Regions from separate parts of the Homo sapiens genome. Here region 1 is linked to region 2. Evidence: fine-mapped expression QTL. A gene starts in region 2. The other region holds a variant in brackets. All regions are shown on one strand. Distances are between the middles of the regions. Region 1 overlaps GASK1A (golgi associated kinase 1A). Region 2 holds the start of GASK1A (golgi associated kinase 1A).

What was found. PIP is the estimated chance that this variant, and not a neighbour inherited with it, causes the effect. A credible set is the group of variants that fine-mapping cannot tell apart.
Region 1: its variant is the best candidate, but not a certain one, in a credible set for the expression of GASK1A in anterior cingulate cortex (GTEx, PIP 0.69).

Annotation. Positions count from the first base shown.
Region 1 is chr3:43,004,735-43,015,549 of GRCh38, reverse strand. The region is part of intron 1 of GASK1A (golgi associated kinase 1A); the gene reads right to left. Among named protein-coding and RNA genes, the nearest start is that of GASK1A, 31 kb to the right of the region's middle. The variant G/C (reference allele first, on the strand shown) is at 4,431.
Region 2 is chr3:42,974,116-42,984,930 of GRCh38, reverse strand. GASK1A (golgi associated kinase 1A) reads right to left here and starts at 5,620. Exons shown (of 5, transcript NM_001129908.3): 1 at 5,286-5,620. The coding sequence starts at 5,288. RefSeq lists enhancers at 96-596, 597-1,097.

The sequences.
Region 1 (10,815 bases), 31 kb before region 2:
GCCCCTTTCTTGTGACTTCACACTGTACCTTCCTATGGCTTCACACTGCCCCTTCCTGTGGCTTCACACTGCCCCTTCCTGTGACTTCACACTGCCCCTTTCTGTGTCTTCACACAGCCAGAGATCCTGTGACTTCACACAGCCCCTACCTGTGACTTCTCACTGCCCCTTCCTATCACTTCACACCGCCCCTTCCTGTGACTTCACACTGCCCCTTCCTGTGACCTCACAAGCCCCTTACAGTGGCTTCACACAGCCCCTTCCTGTGGCTTCCCACAGCCCCTTCCTGAGAATTCGCACTGCTCCTTCCTGTGACTTCCCACTGCCCCTTCCTGTGATGTCATACTGCCCCTCCCTGTTATTTCACACCACCCTGCCCCTTTCTGTGACTTCCCACAGCCCCTTCCTGTGACTTCACACTGCCCCTACCTGTGATGTCACAGAGCCCCTTCCTGTGGCTTCACACTGCCCCTCCTAGTGGCTTCACACAGCCACTTCCTGTGACTTCACCCAGCCCCTTTCTGTGACTTCTCACTGTCCCTTCCTGTGGCTTCACACAGTCCCTTCCTGTGACCTCAAATTCCCACTTCCTGTGACCACACAAGCCCCTTCCAGTAGCTTCACACTGCCCATTCCCAGGGCGTAAAACAGCCTCTTCCTGTGATTTCACAGTGCCTCTTCCTTTGGCTTCACACAGCCCCTTCCTATGACTTCCCATTGGCCTTTCCTGTAGCTTCACACCACCGCTTCCAGTGACTTCACATTGCCCATTCCTGTGATATCAAAGTGCCCTTTCCTGTGGCTTCACACAGAACCCTGCCTGTGACTTCATACCACGCCTTCCTATGACTTCATACTGTCTCTTCCTGTGACTTCACATGGCCACTTCTTGTGACTTCCCATAGCCACTCATTCTGACTTCCCACTGTCCCATACTGCGACTTCACAAAGCCACTTCCTGTGACTCCCTGCAGCCCCTTCCTGCAACTTCCCACAGCCACTTCCTGTGACTTCCCAATGCCCCTTCCTGTGGCTGCACAATGCCCCTCCTTTTGGCTTCACACTACCCTCCCTGTGGCTTCACACTGCCTCTTCCTGTGACGTCACACTGCCCCTTCTGTGGCTTCAGACTGCCCCTTCTTGTGGCTTCACACTGGCCTTTCCTGTGACTTCACACAGCTTCTTCCTCTGACTTCACACCATCCCTTCCTTTGACATCCCACTGCCTCTTCCTGTGACTTCAGACAGCCCCTTCCCATGACTTCACACTCCTTCTTCCCGTGACTTCTCACTGACCCTGCCTGTGGCTTCACACAGCACCTTCCTGTGACTACCCCCTGTCCCTACCTGTGACTTCACACAGCCCCTTCCTGTGACTTCACACTGTGCCTTCCTGTGGTTTAACACTCCCCCTTCCTGTGGCTTCACACAGCCCCTTCCTGTGACTTCCTACTGCCCCTTCCTGTGGCTTCACACAGTCCCTTCCTGTGGCATCACACCACCTCTTCCTGTGACTTCACACTACCCCTTCCTGCCGCTTTTCAAAGCCCCATTCTGTGGCTTCACACAGCCCCTTCCTGTGGCTTCACATTACCCTTCCTGTGACTTCACACTGCCTCTTCCTGTGACTTCCAACAGCCACTTCTTGTGACTTCCCACTGCCCCTTCCTGTGGTTTCACAAAGCCCCTGCCTGTGAACTCACACTGCCACTTCCTCTGACCTCACCTAGCCCCTTTGTGTGAGTTCATACAGCCACTTCCTGTGACTTCACGTAGCCCCATCCAGTGGCTTTACCCAGTTCCTTCCTGTGATATCACACTACCCTGTCCTGTGACTTCCCACAGCCCCTTCCTGTGACTTCACACAGCACCTTCCTGTAACTTCCCACTGCACATTCTGGTGGCCTCACACTGCCCCTTTCTGTGACTTCCCACTGTCCCTTCCTGTTGCTTCACACTGCCACTTCTTTGGCTTCACAATACCCCTCCCTGTGGCTTCACAATGCCTGTTCCTGTGACTACCCACTGCCTCTTCCTGTGGCTTCACACAGCCCCTTCCTGTGACTTGACACAGCCCCTTGCTGTTACTTCCCACTGCACCTTCTTGTAACTTCCTACTGCCCATTCCTGTGGCCTCACACTGCCCCTTCCTGTGACTTCACAGCACCCCTTGCTGTGGTTTCACACGGCCCCTTCCTTTGACTTCACACTGCCTCTGTGACTTCTCACTGCCCCTTCCTGTGGATTCACAGAGCCTCTACCTGCGATTTCACACTGCCCATTCCTGTGGCTTCACATTGCCTCTTCCTGTGACTTCCCACAGCCACTCCCTGTGACTTCTCACTGCCCCTTCCAGTGACTTCACACAGCCCCTTCCTGTGACCTCATACTGCCCCTTCCTGTGACTTCACACTGCCCCTTTCAGTGGCTTCACACACTCCTTCTTGTGACTTTCCACTGCCCCTTCCTGTGACTTCCCTCTGCCCCTCCCTGTGACTTCCCACAGCTCATTCCCGTGATTTCCCATGCCCCTTCCTGTGGCTTCACAAAGCCCCTTCTGTAACTTCACACTGCCTCTTCCTGTGATTCACACAGCCCCTTCCTGTGGCTTCACACTGCTTCTTCCTGTGGCCTCACACAACCCCCCTTTCTCTGACTTCACATAGCCCCTTCCTGTGACCCCATTGCCCCTTCCTGTGACTTCACACTGCCCCTTCCTGTGGCTACACACAGCTCCTTCCTGTGGCCTCACACTGCCTGTGGCTCCACACTGCCCTTCCCTGTGACTTCACATAGCCCCTTCATGTGACTTTCCACTTCCCTTCCTGTGACTTCACACAGCTCCTTCCTGTGGCCTCACACTGCCTGTGGCTCCACACTGCCCTTCCCTGTGACTTCACATATCCCCTTCATGTGACTTTCCACTTCCCTTCCTGTGACTTCACACAGCTCCTTCCTGTGGCCTCACACTGCCTGTGGCTCCACACTGCCCTTCCCTGTGACTTCACATAGCCCCTTCATGTGACTTTCCACTTCCCTTCCTGTGACTTCACACAGCCCCTTTCATGTGACTTCACACTGTGCCTTCCTGTGGCTTCACACTGCCCCTTCCTGTGGCTTAACAGAGCCACTTCCTGTAAGTTCACCCTGCCCCTACTTGTGACATCACACAGCCCCTTCCTGTGGCTTCACACTGTCCCATTCAGTGGCTTCACACTGCCCCTTCCAGTGGCTTCACACAGCTACTTCCAGTGGCTTCACACAGCCCCTTCCTGTGACCTCACACTGCCCCTTCCTGTGACCTCAGAAGCCCCTTCCAGTGGCTTCAAACAGCCCCTTTCTATGGCTTCCCACAGCCTCTTCCTGTGACTTCCCTCTGCCCCTTCCTGTGACTTTCCACAGTCCCTTTTTGTGACTTCCCACTGCTCCTTCCTGTGACTTCCCATTCCCCTTCCTGTGGCTTCACACAGCCCCTGCCTATGGCTCAACACTGTCCCTTCCTTTGGCCTCACATTGCCCCTTCCTTTGGCTTCACACTGTCCCTGTTACTTCACACAGCCCCTTTATTTGGCTTCACACTGCTCCTTCCTTTGGCTTCACACTGCCGCTTCCTGTGACTTCACACTGCCCTTTTATCTGGCTTCACACTACCCCTTCCTATGACTTCACACAGCCCCTTCCTTGGCTTCACACAGCCCCTTCCTAACGTCACACTGCCTCTTCCTGTGGCTTCATACTGACCCTGTGGCTTCACACAGCCTCCTCCTGTGACTTCACACAGCCCCTTCCCTTGGCTTCACACAGTTCCTTCCTGTGATGTCACGTAGCCCCTTTCTCTGGCTCCACACAGCCCCTTCCTGTGACTTCACATAATTTCTTCTTATGACATCTTCCAGCCCCTTCCTATTGTTTCACACTGCTCCTTCCTGTGACTTCACTCTGCTTCTTCCTGTGACTTCACATTGTCCCTTTCTGTGACTTCACACAGCCATTTCCCATGGCTTCACACAGCCTTGACTTGCTGCAATTCAGTGTGTGCTAAATCCTAGAAGCCAGCCCTGCCTTGTAAATGACAGCCCACACAGTGGGTTCTTACATACAGAAAAAGGTTCCTATTTGCAATAAAAATCTCTTGTGATCTCCTAACCATTTTTTTTTTTTTTTTTTTTGAGATGGAGTCTCACTCTGTCGCCAGGCTGGAGTGCAGTGGTGCGACCTCGGCTCACTGCAACCTCTGCCCTCCAGGTTCAAGTGATTCTCCTGCCTCAGCCTCTCAAGTAGCTGGGACTACAGGCGCACGCCACCACACCCAGCTAATTTTTATATTTTTAGTAGAGACAGGGTTTCACCATGTTGGCCAGGATGATCTTGATCTCCTGACCTCGTGATCTGCCCACCTCGGCCTCCCAAAGTGTTGGGATTACAGGCGT[G/C]AGTCACCATGCCTGGCCCATTTCTTAATCTGCCTAAGCAAATGCCCTCTTGGCACATTTGAAGAAAACTATTTTGAACAGTTAAAAACACTATAGATATTTTACCTTAATGGATTTGTTGGTGGGTGGAGAGGGGGGAGTTGGGGAAGGTAAGAGGCTAAAGGTCCATGGCAGGGTGCAATTTGAAATTCCTCTGAGGCTCAGATCTGAATCTCATTTACTTCAAGCAAATATGGTAGGAGGAGCCATCCATGTGTCCATGGCTGTCTGCCCAGGTTCTGCTGCTTAGCTTCCATAGCATAACATCAGGGATATTGTAATCTTATTATGTGATGGAAACTTCCTTGGAGAACAAATGGCAATAGCTAGTGCTGGGGAAGGAATGAAAACCAAAAGAAGCCTTAGAAAATGATGGTTCTCAGTTGGGATGGGTGTGGGGAGGAAGTGGTACACAGGGAGACAAGACCTAGAAAATATTAGCTTTTAAAGCAAGAAAGAAAGGAATGTCAAACTTAGAGATGGCAGAAATCTATAATCCAAATGAATTCTCCACCCTCATGAAATACGAAAAGCAATTCAAAAAATCGTTTCAGCAAAGGCCTCAGCCAAGGTAAAAATTATTTTTCAAGGACAGTGATAGAAATTGAAAATTTAACTCTTGCAGCCCACTCTACTGTATTTCATGGGAGAATATAAAATGCTATAATGGTGTTTCTCAAATTCGGGGATTTGAGAAAGCCTCAAGAACTAGGCTTTCTTGAGAAGCCCTGAAAGCATTAGGGTTCTACTGAAGAGTATGGCCTAGCAGGAAGAAGGCTCTGGCTGGGTAATATCTGAGTACGAGTTCACCTTTTCAGACTCCCTCCTTCACCAGAGTGGTTTCTGTTATTGTAGGTACTGAGTTGCTATATATAACGGCCTGGAACCCAACATGTGACTGGTAGACAACAGGGAGTGAAGGATACTGGGAAAGGCATATGATGTTAGGCACGTACTTTGGAGACCCTCAGGGAACCAGTGTGGGAATCCAGAGCACCCTGGGGCAGGAGGCAGCTTCCTCCAAAGGAACAGTGTAGGGGTGAGGTTGCTCCCCAGAAAAATTGTGCTGCATTACAATTTTATCCTTCTATTCTGACCTCCCCTAATGCCAAGCACTGGACCAAGAAATAAGGACACCAGTGCGAAGAAGGCTTGGCCCCTGCCCCCCAGCAACTCACTGTCTCAAGTGAAAAGGTAATGATATAATAATTTCCCTCATGCCAATTCTGGCAAATCTAGCCTTGCCTACGTTCAGGCCACTTATCTTTCCAAACTTGTGGGACAGGGCTGGTGAAGCATGGAATGCTGGACAGCAGTTCTGGGTGCCACCACCTGAGGTCTCCACCAACATCTGATGACACCATGAGTTTGTTACATGTTTTTCACTGTTATGGCTAGAAGGATGTTGCCTCCAGATATTCTCACAATGACTCTAACAGGTAGGAAGGAAATATCATACCATTTTATGGCTGAGGAACTCGAAAAAGAGACTTCAAAATTTGCTCAAGGTGACACACCATCTAAGTAGAAGAGCTGAGATTCCAACTCTGGCCTCCAGCCTGCAGAGACCAAGCCCTTCCCAGCACACAGGAGCCAGTTCTGGCCCTGGGGACTTCAGGGCACATGGGGGAAAGAATTAGCTCAGGCCATCAGGGGTTTATCCAGAAGCATTTTCAATGCGCCCAGATAACCTGGGGGAAGCAGTGCTAGCAGAAGGATTTTAAAGACCTGAGAAATACCTGGATCCGTCTCTTCATTACATTGGCTGGGGTTCCTGATACCAGCTGAGACATGGGAGATGATGAGTTGTGTTATCTTTCAACAAATACTTACACTCACTTCAGAAAGGCAACATCTAGAAGGATGCGCTGAAGGATACACAGGAGCTGGACTCTCTAGGTCCAACCCCCCAGCTTTGCCCTAATAAGCATATATCTTCACATCAATTTCTGCATCTGAAAAATGAGTATGAAAATGGTTCCTCCCTCAAAGAGTTGCTGTGAGGATTCAACATATTTTAATGTATATAAAGTGCTGAGAACAGAGCCTTGCATACATTTTTATAGTTATTACTTAGCATTATCATTAAATCTCATGATTATTAAATCTCCAAGGTACTTGGGAACTCCAGCACCTCCTTTAAGTTACTGCCCCATGCCGCACTCTCTCCATCTGTGGATGGGCTGGTAACAGTTACAGTCACAGCATTCTGAACACTGGCAAACCATAACTGAGAGGAAAGCGTGTGAAGAGGTTTCAGGGACTGATACCAACGTGCCTCCTCAGAGCCACCACTTGCTCAAGTGACCAAAAGAGTGACCTCTGACTCCCTGCTCTGCTGCTCCTAAGTGCAGTTGACTTCTAAAGCATGGCTGCTCTGTACACACCTGTAGAGTCCTGGTGAGGGCGAAAGCATTCCTGGGCAGATGCCTGGCAGCAGGAAAGCAGGGCTCAGACACAAAATACCTCTTAGAAGACTGGCACTTGAGAAGGTTAAAACAAAGCTATAGTTGAAATCTGAGATGGAAAAATTAAATCTTTCCTTTTTCCTTCAGTGAGTCTATCAGATAGGAAGCCTGTACACTGAATGGGAAATAAAGAGGCCTTGCAGTGGGGATGCTCATGAGGCATTTCCTGACAACCGTGGGCATAGAGCTCCTTCCAGCCAGGTGACCTCCGGCTTCAGAGGACTAGGAAGGAGGCAGGCAGCCACGTCTGGGGGTGCACGTGGCACCATGGAGGCGTGGAGGTCCTCCCTCGAGAGACTCCAGAACACCAACTGTAGCCAGCATTGTTGAGCATCTCCCATGCCAGACCCTGTGCCAGGTACCTGATAAGACAGTTCCTCTACTTCCTGCAACCTCCCTGGAAGGGAGGTATCATTCCTCACATTGGGAAGCTGAGGAAACTGAGGCATAGACAGCTTATGTCAGTTTCTTACAGCCTCATAGCTAAGTGGCAGAGTTAGACTCAAACCCAGGTCTAGCTAACTCCATCAGTTTATTAGCCGGAGTTTTGACCCTGCTATTATAGAAGCCTAAAAGAATAAGAGTTGTTTCTCCACCTGCCTTTCTTCTCCAAGCAAGCAAGCAAGCAAGCAAACCCGGAGAGCTGGAAGCCATCCTCTTCCTGCCCCAGGATAGAATAAAAAGGCCTTTGCTTTAAAAGCCAACCAAGGCTCCTAAAGGTAAATTGAGCTGGGCTGTCTGACTGATATCAGGTCACCTAGGTGAGGACAGGCTTGGAGCCAGACAATTTGATTTAGAAAAGTAATGCTGTTGTTCAGCTAAAAATGGTAGACTAAGCACCTGCTATTCTCTTTCTTTCCTCCTGAAATATGAAAATAACAGTAAAGTGTTCTTATTTTTAAAGAACAAACCTCTAAGGATAAAGAGAACAGGAAAGCAGTCAACCATAAAAGCAAAATTCAGGAAGCTGGAAAGCAGGTGAATGAGTAGCAATGGCCTGAGCAGACTCATGAAAGCTGAATCCTAAACTAGAAGGCAGGTCAAAACTCAACATGATTTACACCAAGGGAGCCCCCAACAGGTAAAGGACTGGTGCTGATAGGATAAAAAACAAAAGGATTGGCTGAAAGTCGACTTAAGAAGAAGCTAGACACCCAGATCTCCATACTGTGAAGTCAGGCAGCTGCCCCTCCTGCACCCAGCAGAAGACTGAAAGTTTGTTCTATGGAGAGAGAAAGCTAGGGAAGCTACATGCTGGGAGACACCTGGGACAGTTGAGGGCAGTGGGGACTATACTGAAAACAGGAGTTTTAAGAGAACATTTACATGCTGAACATTGAAATATTGCAAGGGCCCCCCAAGTATCCAACACAATGGCTAAAAAGTGAGACCTTAGTGGTATGGAATTCAGATATTTGCAATTGCCCCACACACTTGTATTTTGATGAGATCACCCACTAGCAACAGTATGTCCTGTTTCCATGGTCATGGAGACAGTTTGTTGCTGCAGCCATTAAAAGCAAAAGCTTCAATAGCAATGGCTGCTTGGGGCCACCTATCCTGAGCTTCACCACTTGGCAGTGCTGTGCCTCTCACCTGCTCTCCTATGACTATCAGGTGTGTGATACTGAGGGGTACACAACCCGGAAGTATAGGGAAACTTATGTCGAGTGGAGCAAAGCTTTGATCATTGGGAGACTGAAGACAGTGGGTAAATTCAAGTGGTCCTGAATTCAATTTATGCAGCTTCTTGGATAGGTCCATAGGATCACACAATCAATTGCCTGTAGCAGCAGCCAGCTTGATAATACATCGCCATATCATCTCTCCTGTTTCCCTGCTTCTCTTTGGGTGTTTCCTGAGATTGTACTCCCAAATAACAGCACATAAGCCTCCAGCCTCGGGCTCTGTTATTAGAAAACCAGGTTAAGACAAACCAAGGCACATCATTGTAAAGCTTCAGAACACTGGGGAAAATATCCTCCAAGTTTCCAGAGAGAAAGGGAGAAAAAAATAAAACAAGTTTTATACCAAGTAATCAAGAATCAGAATGGCTGTGGACTTCTTTACTACAATACCCGAGGCTAGAGCACCATTGAGCAAAGCCTTCAAAATCTGACAGAAAATTATTTCTTTTAATTCTATACTCAAGCCAAACTATCAATCAAATATGAGGGTAGAATGAAGGCAATTTCAGGCATATAACATTTCAACATGGTTTACCCCTCCTGTAGTCACTTTTAACAAGCTATTGGTTAAATTACTCCACTAAAACCAGGAGGTAAGCCAAGAAAGAGGAAGACATGGGATGCAGGAAACAAAGATGCAAAACAAGAGAGGCAAAGAGACTCGTGGGATGCTGGGAAAGGAGGATCCTAAGCCAACGGCTGTGCACCGACCAAGAAAGCGACCAGCTCAGAAGGAGCAGGTCAAAAGGCTCTGGGCAGGGGGTTTCCAAAGAAAGAAATTGATGTGTGCTTGAGTCTATTAAGAGGAAGTTGGCTTGTGATAAGTACATGAAAAAAACTAAGGAAACAAAAAAGATGATTACTAACTAGAGAGAAACAGAAAGGTGCCCAGGAAAGGAAAGGTGATCATAATATAATACAGCAGTCCCTACCCCTTATCCTTGGAAGATACGTTCCAAGCCCCCCAGCGGATGCCTGAAACCTTGGACAGTACCAAATCCCATTGCCATAAATCAGAACACATTTCTAGAAGTTCATGTCTTCCACCCACAAATTGAATGCCTTTTCCATCTTAATGAAGCACTTATCACACACTTTGGCTGTAACTTTTGCCACAGTTTGAGGTGCAGCAGCAAAACTAGCATGAATTTCTCTTTCTTCAGAAGACAATTTCACAGATAGCAGATTCATTCTTACTGCAGATCTTAGCAACCCCAGCCTACGATTTTTTTTTCTTAAGTAGAGAAACTTTCATCTTCTCACTTAAATGAAGCACTTTCAGCGTCTCTTTGTCACACTCCAATTGCAGGATCACTACTCTTGCACTTTGGGCCATGATGAAGTAAAATAAGGTTTACTTGAACATGGGCAATGCAGTACTCCAATAGCCATCTGATAACTGAGACAGCTACTAAGTTACTAATGGGCAGAGAGCATCTGCAGTGTGAATATACTGGACAAAGGGATGACTCATGTCCCAGGTAGGACAGAGCGAGATGCCACAAGATTCATCACACTACTCAGTACAACACACAAATGAAAACATAAATTGTGTATTTCTGGAATTTTCCATTTAATATTTTCAGACTGCAGGTAACCTTGGGTAACTGAAACTGTGGAAAGTGAAACCAAGGGTACTACTGGATACTGCTCAGCCGTTAAGATATCCATGTCCTAATCCCCAAACCTGTGAACAAGTTACCTTATGTGGTTAGAGGGATTCGGACGGTGTGATTAAATTAAGGGTCTTGAAATGGGGAGATTATCCTAGATCATCTGATGGGCCCGATGTAATCACAAGTATCCTTTTAAGAGGGAAGCAAGAAGGCGGCCATGTGATGACTGAAACAGAGGGAATCAGAGTCAGTGAGAGAGAAGATGCTGCACTGGTGGCTTTGAAGATGGAGGTAGAGACCATGAGCCAAGGAATGCAGGTGGCCTCTAAAGGATAGAGGTGGCAAGGAAATGGATTCTCCCCCAGAGCCTCCAGAAAGAACTGGCCCTGCCAACACCTTGATTTTAGCCAAATAAGACTCACTTTGGACTTCTAGTCTCCAGAACTGTAAGAAAATTAATTCGTGTCGTTTTAAACCAACAAGTTCCTAGCAATTTGTTACCGCACCAATACGAAGCTAATACATCTGTGAGTAGGTTTTAAGTAGTCATAATGTAAACACTGATCTCACCAAA
Region 2 (10,815 bases):
CACCTGGAGAGTATCTCAAGACAACGATGACCTTACAACCTAGCTCTGCCTGTGATGGTGCTAGCTCAACTCCCTGGTAGATAAGGCACCAAAGCAAGTCACGGAGACCCCCACCTGCTTGCTCACTCCCCTGCATGCCATTCATGCCAAGTATTCATTTAAAGGACCCTGCTTTCTGCTCTAAAGCAAAGCGGTACCCTTAAAGGCAGGAGCCTGTACCTCTTCCCCTAAGCTAAGCTTTAGAATAAAGTCACTTTCTTTATACTAGACCTTGCTCTTGTTAATTGGACTCTACAAGTGGTGAGTGACTGAATCTGCATTTCAGTTATACTCCTGCTGTTTCCTCACCCTTCACATCAGCCCTCATCCTGCTTTCCTTCCACTCTTAGCCTCCTTGACCCCAGGATTCACCAGATGCTATTATAAAGCACCTTCCATCTTCCACTCAGCTGGCAGTTCTGGAGCCACAGGCTGGACTCTGGGGAATAGGACCAGATCCCAGGCCACTCCCAAGAGTATGTGTGCATGCGTGAGTGTGTGTGTGCGTGCACATGTGTGTGTATGAGTATATGTGTGATGTGTGAAAGTCAGCGTGTGTGTGTGTGAGAGAGAGAGAAAGAGAGAGAGAGAGAGATAGGAAGTGAAATCCACATAAAGAAGGGCGGCCTGGGATTTTCCCACAATCATGGCTCCCTCTCATCCTCAATCTCAGGCCAAGTGGTCCTTCACACACAGGCCTGTGCAGACACATCCAGAAAATGAGGGATCACGCCCTAAACTCCCTAGGCAGAAACACTTTAGCAGTCACATCACAAGATGATCCAAGCAAAGACAGCCCCAGGTGACTCACAGCAACCATGCCTCAAAGAAAACTGATGCACTCTGTGTCTCTACTAGTACCTTAGGTGGGGAGCAGACATTGGGCCTCCCAGACCTATTGGAAGGATGTCGGCATCTTTGAGGCCAAGCTGAAGCATGTTTCTCTCACTAGTCCCTGAAACAACTAAGGAACTCATTTCTTTGTGAGGCCTGTTCCCACCACCCCCGACATCCCTGTTTTTTGGATCAACCTCTGTTTGGTATGGTTGGGGCCAGTAGATTCTTTAAAACACTCTGCTCCCTGCCCAGCCCTGCACAAAGCCTGGGTCAGGTATGCAGCAGGAGCTGCAAGTAAGGGCTGTACCCCAGAAGAGAGAGGGGATCAAATTTCCCACAGGCTCCATGGGCTGCATTTCAAGGTTCCAATACCAGTTTAACCTCTTCTTTAGCTAAGCCTGATGACTTCTGCGACTCATTCAGTGCAGAGGGACTCAATGAGGGGACCCCAGCAGTAGATTCCAAGGACCTGCGGCTGTTTGGGGAGCTACATTCTCATCCAGTCAGCAGCATTCTGCAAGGGAGACAGACTGGACGAACATCTGCAGGCTGGGTTTTCCTGCCTGATGAGAAGAGAGACTTAAAGAAGCAAGAAAACTACTTGAGGGTAAATTTCATCTATACTAGATCCTTACTTAGAGAAGAGTCCCAGAAGCATCCCCTTGACTGGTATTGAATGAAAGGCACCTGTGACTTCCTTACCATTTTAGACCCTAACAAAAAGCAAACCTATTTTTGTGGGTCGTTTGTAAAGCCCCCAATCTTACAGCACCTTTGAGACACCAAGTATTTTCACCTCCATGACTCCATTTGCTCCTCACAATGACTCATTTTACAGATAAGGGGCTAAGGTTCAGAGCAAGGCAGCGCTTACCCAGAGCCACACGGTGACCTAGCCCAGCACAAACCCCATTCTGACTGCAAACCCCAGGCCTTTCCTCTGCCACTCCAAGCCACACCACATCCCTCAATTCTATGATGGGGCTGTAGTGACTGTGACAGGACCTACATGGAGAGTGGAGGGGAAGAACTAGGAGACCCGGGCCCTAGCCTGGCTCTAAGTGACCCTAAAGAGGCCACATCCCTTTTCCAGCTTCAGCTACTTGTCCTCTGAGTCTTAACCTCCAGGGATTTTAGCTCTTGGTTCTCCCAAGGAGGACTGGCCCATGTGGGCTCCCCTGGGACTCCATTGCCCCCACTGCTGCCTGCCTGATGACCTGCCCACAGCACAGAGTGAAGACAGGCAAGAGGAAACTCCTCCCACAGCACGCTGGGCCCTGGGAGGGTAGTTACAGTAAGAGCTTGGATAGAGAAAGAGGCCGGAGCAATTCATTCTTGTGAATTTTTCTGATTTCCACTTAGCTGGGCACTCAGGTCCTCATTTCCATGGATAATGAGAAGCTGGCCACATGCCACTGAAATCAGCCCCAATCCTGAAGTGACCTAAATGTCCAAAAATGGGGAGATGATTATCAAAATCACGGTACTGAGCATTAAATGTATGGTTATAAAAGATTTTTCTAGAGATGTAGACATGGAAACGTGCTTTGATATAAACTGAAGTAAAACAAATCAGACTGCAAAATTCCATGTGTGGTGAAATCTCAGCTCTTTAAAATAATACTCAAAGAGAATAGGAAATATGCCAAAATGATAATCATGGTTCCTGTAGAAGTTGTGTATTTTTTCTCAAAAATCAGGAGGAAAACATTTTTTAATTGGCAGTAATAGTTTCAACTTTCTCTATCAATATTTTTCTTTTTTAATTTTTAACCCAACACATATATATCTGATTCTATCAATATTTTTCATCAAGTACAGAGTCCTTGGCAAACACCAAACCTCCCACCACCACTGCAAAGAAAGAAACTGACAAGTGTTCCAATCTTCGCTTTAGAAAAATACACACCAAGCCATGGCAATGACCCCTGACTCCTCAGGATAATCAAAAATGCCCCCGCAGATACTGCAGCTCAATGCTCTTTTCTTTTTTCTTTTTTTCAAAAGGACATTTAAGGATTCTATACTTTTATTTGTATACTTCTAACCCAGAGTTTCCCATCATACGTATCTTGGATCAATAATAGGATGGCATTAGGGAAATACTGAATAAAGGATACCGTATTCAAACAAGCTGGGCAAGTTCAAATCTCAGTGTAATGAATTAAAAGACAATACTCTGTGGAAGGACCCTCAAAGAGATATAGCATGTGATATATGTGATATCATATAATGGGAAATGATATAGCATCTATCATTTCCCAAAAACTATTTTAGGACTATCTCAAGGAATGACCACTCTGTGGACATAGGGATATCTTGGGAAGTGCAGCTTTGAGCCCCAGCTTTCTCCCGTTCTCTCAGCCTTCTTGCCCTGTGGTTCTCAGCCCTGGCAGCACACTGGGCTCACTTGCAGAGCCTGAAAACATCCCTTGGTCTGGGTCTCATCTGGATTTGGGCTGGGGGATGGGGGCAGCCTGAGTCAGGGCTGAGAACCACTTCTTCCCCACACCTTTTTAGTTGTTCATGCTAAGCACAGCTCAACACTAGAATTGAGATCCAATCTCAAAATTATTCACATATCACCCATTTTTGGAGCTAAATGGCACCTTGAATAACATCTAGTCCAATCTCTCATCTAACAGAAGAGGAAACTAAGGTCCTCAAAGGATTCCTAGCCCCCTGTCTCCTCCCATGCTGCTTCTAGCCAGTGCCAGGCTGCCCTGTGGTCTCTGGACCTCAAGACCCTTCATTCAGATGGAGAAGCAAAGGACAGCCTTCAGATCTCCAAGGCCATTTCACTGCCAGAGGATGACCATCAGGCCCCTCTCTCTGCAAGTGAACCCTGAGACAGTGAAATGTTGACACAAGTCCTCTTCCTAACACAATACCAGAACCCAGAGCCAGGGACGTGAAACCGGGAAGCTGCAATGACTCACAGAACGGGAAGCTTACGCTGGCAGTGGGGCAAACACACCAATGTTCCCCTAGGCAGCCTGAGCAGAAGGCAGGTACCATCTCTCCTCCAGGCACTCTGCTTCAGCCGCAGACCACAGAGCCTCTGCTACATTTGCCTTTAAAGCCAGGAGACTCCAGCATGCTAATGCCCCTCGGAGTGGATGGCTGTGGCCTGAGTTCTGGTAACACTCTTGCTCCTAAACAGGGAATTTGTAATAGGATATCTCCACACTTTTCGTTTCACATCCTGTACCCCCAATCATTCCCCCTTTTGAAGCTTAAGATTCCACTATTTCCTTCTCTTAGCAGCTTTGAGAAAAAACCTGAAGCTGGATAGGTGTTAGGAGGGGTGAAACATACACACACCCCTAGCCTCAAAGGTACCCTTCCCTGAGCCCCCAGCTCCTTATGACCAGCCCTCCACCTCTGTTCCAGCCACCTGCCAGGCCCCCCTGCACACAAAGGAGCTGTTCTCACAGAGACCCTCCATCCTACAGCGCAGTCTCTAGACAGCCTTCTAAACCCCAGGCCCAGCAAAACTCCCCACAAAGCATCTCCAGTGGGTTCCGATCTGCCTTCTGTGAGCTTGGAAGGAAAGGGAAGAGGCGAGCAGGCACGGAAGCAGCCAGGGGAGCCCAGTGAACTGCAGGAGCCCAGTTGGGGTTGCAGGGGTTTTCTGCTGCGGGAGAAGCAGAGCAACTAACCAGCGGCCGGGCCTGAGGGACGCCCCTTTCCTGGGGTTGCATGTGTCCTTTAGCTAAGCCGCCTGGGCCACATTCTCGATGGGTTTTTCTTTTCTGCCTGTTAGTGTCTGTGAAGTTGATCAATGGAAGGGCCACGTCCACAAGATCCTGGTTTCATCGTGACATCCCAGACCCACCAGTGCTTCCACATCTGCCCAACAGTCCTCCTGTCGGGGAGGTAGAGGAAGGCGGATTGGAACCTTACTAGAGCCAATTTAACTCAATGTTAATTTAGTTATTAAATGTTAATAAACGTTAGGACATTATTTTTAATATCAATACATAGCTAAATTAGAGAAGATAGTATAAAATTCACATGAACTTTGGAGAGTATTAAAATGACTTCAAAAGCATCTCATCAGAGGCTGCCGTGGGTTCCCCAGGGAACGCTCCCCTCTCCCTGCCTTGTGGATTGCATGAAGATTGCAGAGTTGCGAGTGGGTTACGGTTAGGTCAAGGAGTGCAGATTAGTAATAAAAGCCCCCTTATTACGGTCCGCCCCACTAAGAGCGGCAGGAAAGCCGATCGCCCCCAGCTCTGGTGCAGAAATGAAAGCCGCCGCCGCCCCATGCAACTTTCGGGGAACAACTCCGGCCTCGGGAGGCCGCGCAGGCTGCGCGCGCCCTGGGCCGCTGCGCGTTGACTGCAGCCACCTGTCCTGGTGATCGCCCCACCCTCCGCTCGCGCGTTCCTTCCCGCGAGTCCTACCATGTCCCCGGCGGTGCCCCGGCCGGCTCCTCGGCGCGCTCAGCCGGCTCGCAGACTCATCCCGCCTCCCCTTGGCCGCCCCCGGCGCCGTGGCTCGCCAGGCTTCCCAGGATGCGCGGCTACTCGGCTGGGGCGGGTTTCCCGGACTGAAGGTGCACACGTTCTCTGCAGCCAAGTGGCCCTGCGCCAACTCTCGGGAGATCGCTGCACACCGGGATACTCCGCGGGTGGGGAATACACGCCGGATCTACTGAGATCTACGGGGATCTGAGGGAGCCTACCCGCGGCCGCGAGCCTCTGCGGTCTACTCGGGACTTTTGCAGAGTTTGCAAAGTCCCTGCCGCGCGTCCCGGCCCAGCTTCCCCATTCCCCTGAAAGCGCGGGAGGGGGAAGCTCCCTTCACAATAAAAGCCCTGCCGGGGGCTCGGCCAGCCGCAGTCTTCTGGTCTTCTGGAGTAGGGGCCCAGGTGCTAGGAAGGAAAGGTCTACGCCCTGACTGCCCGCCTGACGGGTGATGCACCAAGGCTGGACGGTGAGGGACGCCTCTAAGGTGTGAGGGTGCTTGGTGAGTTCGCTGCAACTCAGCAATATGGCTGAGTGTTGCCCAAACTGCCACCCTCTCCTGCCAAGCAGGACAAGTCTTTTTCTTTACTGTCGCTTGTCAGAAGGACAAGTCTTTTTTTACTGTCACTTCTTCGCCTTGTTTGGGTTCAGTCCCCAAGAGGATTTGGAAGGAAAATCCGTTGACCACTAAGCTAATTAACAATGAAGAGTTTTTGTCCTTGAGAACTAATCACTGTTAAAGTCACTGAAGTAAGTGGCTGATACCTCTCTGCTTTGGATGCACAGACAGTGCCTTTGTGTCCCCTGAGTCACCTACTGCCAACAAAGGCACAGTCAGAGCAAGACCTGAGAGTCTATCCGTTCCCCGTTGGGGAATGTCCTGGGCTTAGGGGTTCTGTAGTCCCAAAATCAGGGCTAGCCCCACTATTAACAGCTGGATGACCATCGACCAGTCCCCAGACGTCTTTATGACTTGTGTCCCCCAGTGGCCCAATGTTTGGACCCCAGGATTATTAAGAGCCTGTAGACAATGGATGGAGGCGAGGCAGAGTCAGCAGTAGGGTGCTCTGAGAGAATTTGGGGGCCAGGCTGAAAAATTAGCCTCCAGTACTGAAACTAACAGGAAGCATCATTAGCTAGATGAAGACAGGCATCTTCCCAGCAGTCTCCTGCCCCAGAATGATCTGAGGTTATCACTGATGGCAGTGCTTCTAAAGGGAAGCAAAGATCCAGAGAGTCCCCTTAAATTGTGTATGTGTGTATGGGCAGGAGGAACAGATGAAGGGAAAGTATTCGGTCCTTAACATTCCAGATGCTTTCTGTACATTATTTCATTTAATAACCACAAACGATCCTAAAAGGAAAACTTTTGCAAATTAGGAAAGTCAGGATTAGGGAGGTGAAGTAACTTTCCTGAGACCAGATCGCCAGTAAACAGTTTAGCAAATCCAAGTCTATTTGCCAGAACATGAAACAAAGAGGAAGACTTGATATGGCAGGAACAGGAGGCAGGATGTAGCACTGCAAACTGCAGCTTGTCTGTGCATATGGACTACTGAAAGGACAGAGAGTTTGAGCCCTGGTTGGGAAATGAGGGAAGAGGGTGGAGGACAGTACAAACCATTCAGGGTTTTATTTAGATGTTTAGGGAGACGCTGTGATCTTTTGAGTCTCATTTTCTGACTGTGACCCCACACAAGATATATATTAAACATATATGTATAAATGTAACTAAAAGATTGTTTTATAAAACATTACTTCATGTGATGCACTCTGACATTTTCTATTCTATTCCAATTTTATGTATTTTTAATGATGGTCTCAAATCACTAACTTAGACAGGAAGAGAGTGCCCAGTATTTCCAGGATTACTGGAAGCAGAACTGTTTTTCAAAAGAAGCAGCTCCAATGACTCATGGAACACACTTGGGAAAAGCTGCTGCAGGATCTAGCCCAGCCAAATAAAATGTCACACAAGAACATGGCTAAGCTGTAAAGAATTGTTTGTTGTTATAGCATATCCTGGTCCATCCTAATAACATGAATAAAATTACTTTTAAGAAGAATTACTTGAAAAGAGTCATAAATCAGATTTTTGTCATTTCTCTGCTCAAAACCTACCAGAGGCTTCAAATCTCCTGCAGTGTAACATGCCACATCTTACAGGGGCCTACAAGTCCTTTCACACTTTGGCCCTCATTGGTTCTCTAACATTATCTCTGCACACTCTCTCTCACTGTGCTCCAGGACACACTCACCTTCTTATTGTCCCTTGCATATTACAGGCAAGATCCCACCTCAGGACCTTTGCACTTGTTATCCCTCTCCCTAGAATGCCCCAGATATCCCCATGGTTTGCTCCCTCATCTCCTTCAGGTCTTTGCCCAAGTGTCACCTCTTTAGTGAAGCCTTCTCTGACCACTCTATTTAAGATTGCACACTCCATTCCTCTTCAGTTCCACCTTGTAATTCTTTTTTTTTTTTTTTTTTTTTTTTGAGACGGAGTCTCGCTCTGTCGCCCAGGCCGGACTGCGGACTGCAGTGGCGCAATCTCGGCTCACTGCAAGCTCCGCTTCCCGGGTTCACGCCATTCTCCTGCCTCAGCCTCCCGAGTAGCTGGGACTACAGGCGCCCGCCACCGCGCCCGGCTAATTTTTTGTATTTTTAGTAGAGACGGGGTTTCACCTTGTTAGCCAGGATGGTCTCGATCTCCTGACCTCATGATCCACCTGCCTCGGCCTCCCAAAGTGCTGGGATTACAGGCGTGAGCCACCGCGCCTGGCCGCAACTTCTTGGAAGCTATATTAAAGGGTTTTAAATTTAGATAACCAGTAAATCCCTCCCTTCTAGGAAACAACACTTCATGTTTTGTTACTTTCCAAATTTTTGTTGACTGGTGGTTGGCTGCTCCCAGGTTGTTGGCAGAGCCTCTGGTTACACTGCAGACCTTGCAAGTAGGAAATACTCAACTCACTCCACTGGGACAGGTTGGTGCTAGAGAGGAATATTTTATTATTTTCATGACAGGGTGCTCCAGGTTCATTAGGAGTGAGTCTATCTTTCACCAGTTAGCAGATTTCCAACTTGCTCTAAGGACGTTTTAGGGTTTCTTATAAACTGGTACCCCAGGCAGCGGCCCAACAGGCCCACTCTCTAATAAGATTCCATGTCTAGCTCCATTCCAGACTTACTGAATCAAAATTTCCAAGGCTTGAGTGTCTTTATATTTTTTAAGCATAGCCAGGGCTGAGAACTGCTGAACGACGCAATTCCTCTTCCTTGGCTCCCATATCCAAATGGCCTTTCTAAATGATTCTGGAATCTTTCTCCTCCTCACGGCCAGTTCTTTGGCTCAAACTTTTGTCATCACTTACAGTACTCTCAGAAACTCAACTAGCATCTCAGGCTCTACTTTTGCTCTTTCCAATCCATCCTGCACATTACTGCCAAAACGTAAACATGGGCCTGCCACTGACCTGTTCCACATAACTCTCAGGATTAAGTGCAAATTCCTCAGCAGCATAGCTTTCAGACTCCTTCAAGGTTTGACCTCCGATTACTTCTTCAAGCCTTTTACACACTCATAAACCTCCTTCAGGGCAGTTTCCTCCATCTCAAAGCCTTTTCTTGACACATTCCTATTTCCAACCTGACATACCTCCCTGCACCAGTCCTCCCCATCCTGAAGGTCCAGCACAGCATGTCCCCTGAAGTTTCTCTGTTGCAAATATTATCTCCTGTGACTCTCACTTCCTAGAAGAAAAGACGATTCTGGGCCTTCTGTCTCCATCTTCCTGGTACCAAGTAGCTACTTGATAAATGCTTCTGAATAAAGGAATGAGACAGAGAAGACTGAGGTTCAAAACTGAATCTACCACTCACAAAGCATGGGTCCTCAGCAAAGCCACTTCCTCTCCACTGGTTCAGGTTCCTCATCTGACAGATAAGAACCATCATCCCAGCCCAGCCTAACTCCCTGGATTCCTGCAACCATGTAATGTGCTCATATAAGTTACAACATCCAAGTCAGGACTTTTCTCATGGTAAACTTTCAAAAACATTTATTGAATCCAAGAATGACGAATGAGAAAAAAACTTCTTTTGCAGCAGAGAATGTTAGCATCCAGTTTACATTCTTTTTTTTCATTCACTTAACTCGTATATTTCAAGGGGAAGCAGTATACTTGGCCAAAAAATTATATATTTCACAACCTCCCTTGCAAAAACGAACAGCCAATAAGAAGCAAATGGAAGTCATTGGTGGGGCCCACAGAAGCATTTGAAGGGGGCTGAGGTAACTTACATTATTGTTCAGCAAATATTTACTCCCTATATTAGTCTGTTTTCATGCTGTTGATAAAGACATACCCAAGACTGGGCAATTTACCAAAGAAAGAGGTTTAATGGACCTAGAATTCCACATGGCCTCACAATCGTGGCAGAAGGCAAGGAAGAGCAAGTCACGTCTTACATGGATGGCAGCAGGCAAAGAGAGAGAGAGCTTGTGCAGGGAAACTCCGCCTTACAAAGCCATCAGATCTCATGAGACTTATTCACTATCATGAAAACAGCATGGGAAATATCTGTTCCCATGATTCAATTACCTCCCATAGGGTCCCTCCCACAACATGTGGGAATTCAAGATGAGATTTGGGTGGGGACACAGCCAAACCATATTATTCTGCCCTGGCCCCTCCCAAATGTCATGTCCTTACATTTCAAAACCAATCATGCCTTTTCAACAGTCCCCCCAAAGTGTTAACTCATTTCAGCATTAACTCAAAAGTCCACAGTCCAATGTCTCATCTGAGACAAAACAAGTCCCTTCTGCCTATGAGCCTGTAAAATCAAAAGCAAGTTAGTTATTTCCTAGATACAATGGGGGTACAGGAATTGGGTAAATACAGCCATTCCAAATGGGAGAAATTGGCCAAAACAAAGGGGCTACAGGCCCCATGTAAATCTGAAATCCAGCAAGGAAGTCAAATCTTAAAGTTCCAAAATTATCTCCTTGACTCCATGTCTCACATCCAGGTCATGTTGACGCAAGAGGTGGGCTCCCGTGGCCTTGGGCAGCTCCATCCCTGTGGCTTTGCAGGGTATAGCCCACCTCCTGGCCACTTTCACAGGCTGGCATTGGGTGGTCTGCAGCTTTTCCAGGTTCACAATGCAAGCTATTGGTGAATCTACCATTCTGGGATCTGGAGGATTGTGGCCCTCTTCTCACAGCTCCATTAGGCAGTGCCCTAGTAGGGGTTCTGGGTGGGGGTTCACACCCCACATTTCCCTTCCACACTGCCCTGGCAGAGATTCTCAAAGAGGGCCCCACTCCTGCAGCAAACTTCTGCCTGGACATCCAGGCATTTCCATACATCCTCTGAAATCTAGGAGGAGGTTCCTGAACACCAATTTGTGACTTCTGTGTACTTGCAGGCTCAACACCACGTAGAAGCTGCCAAGGCTTGGG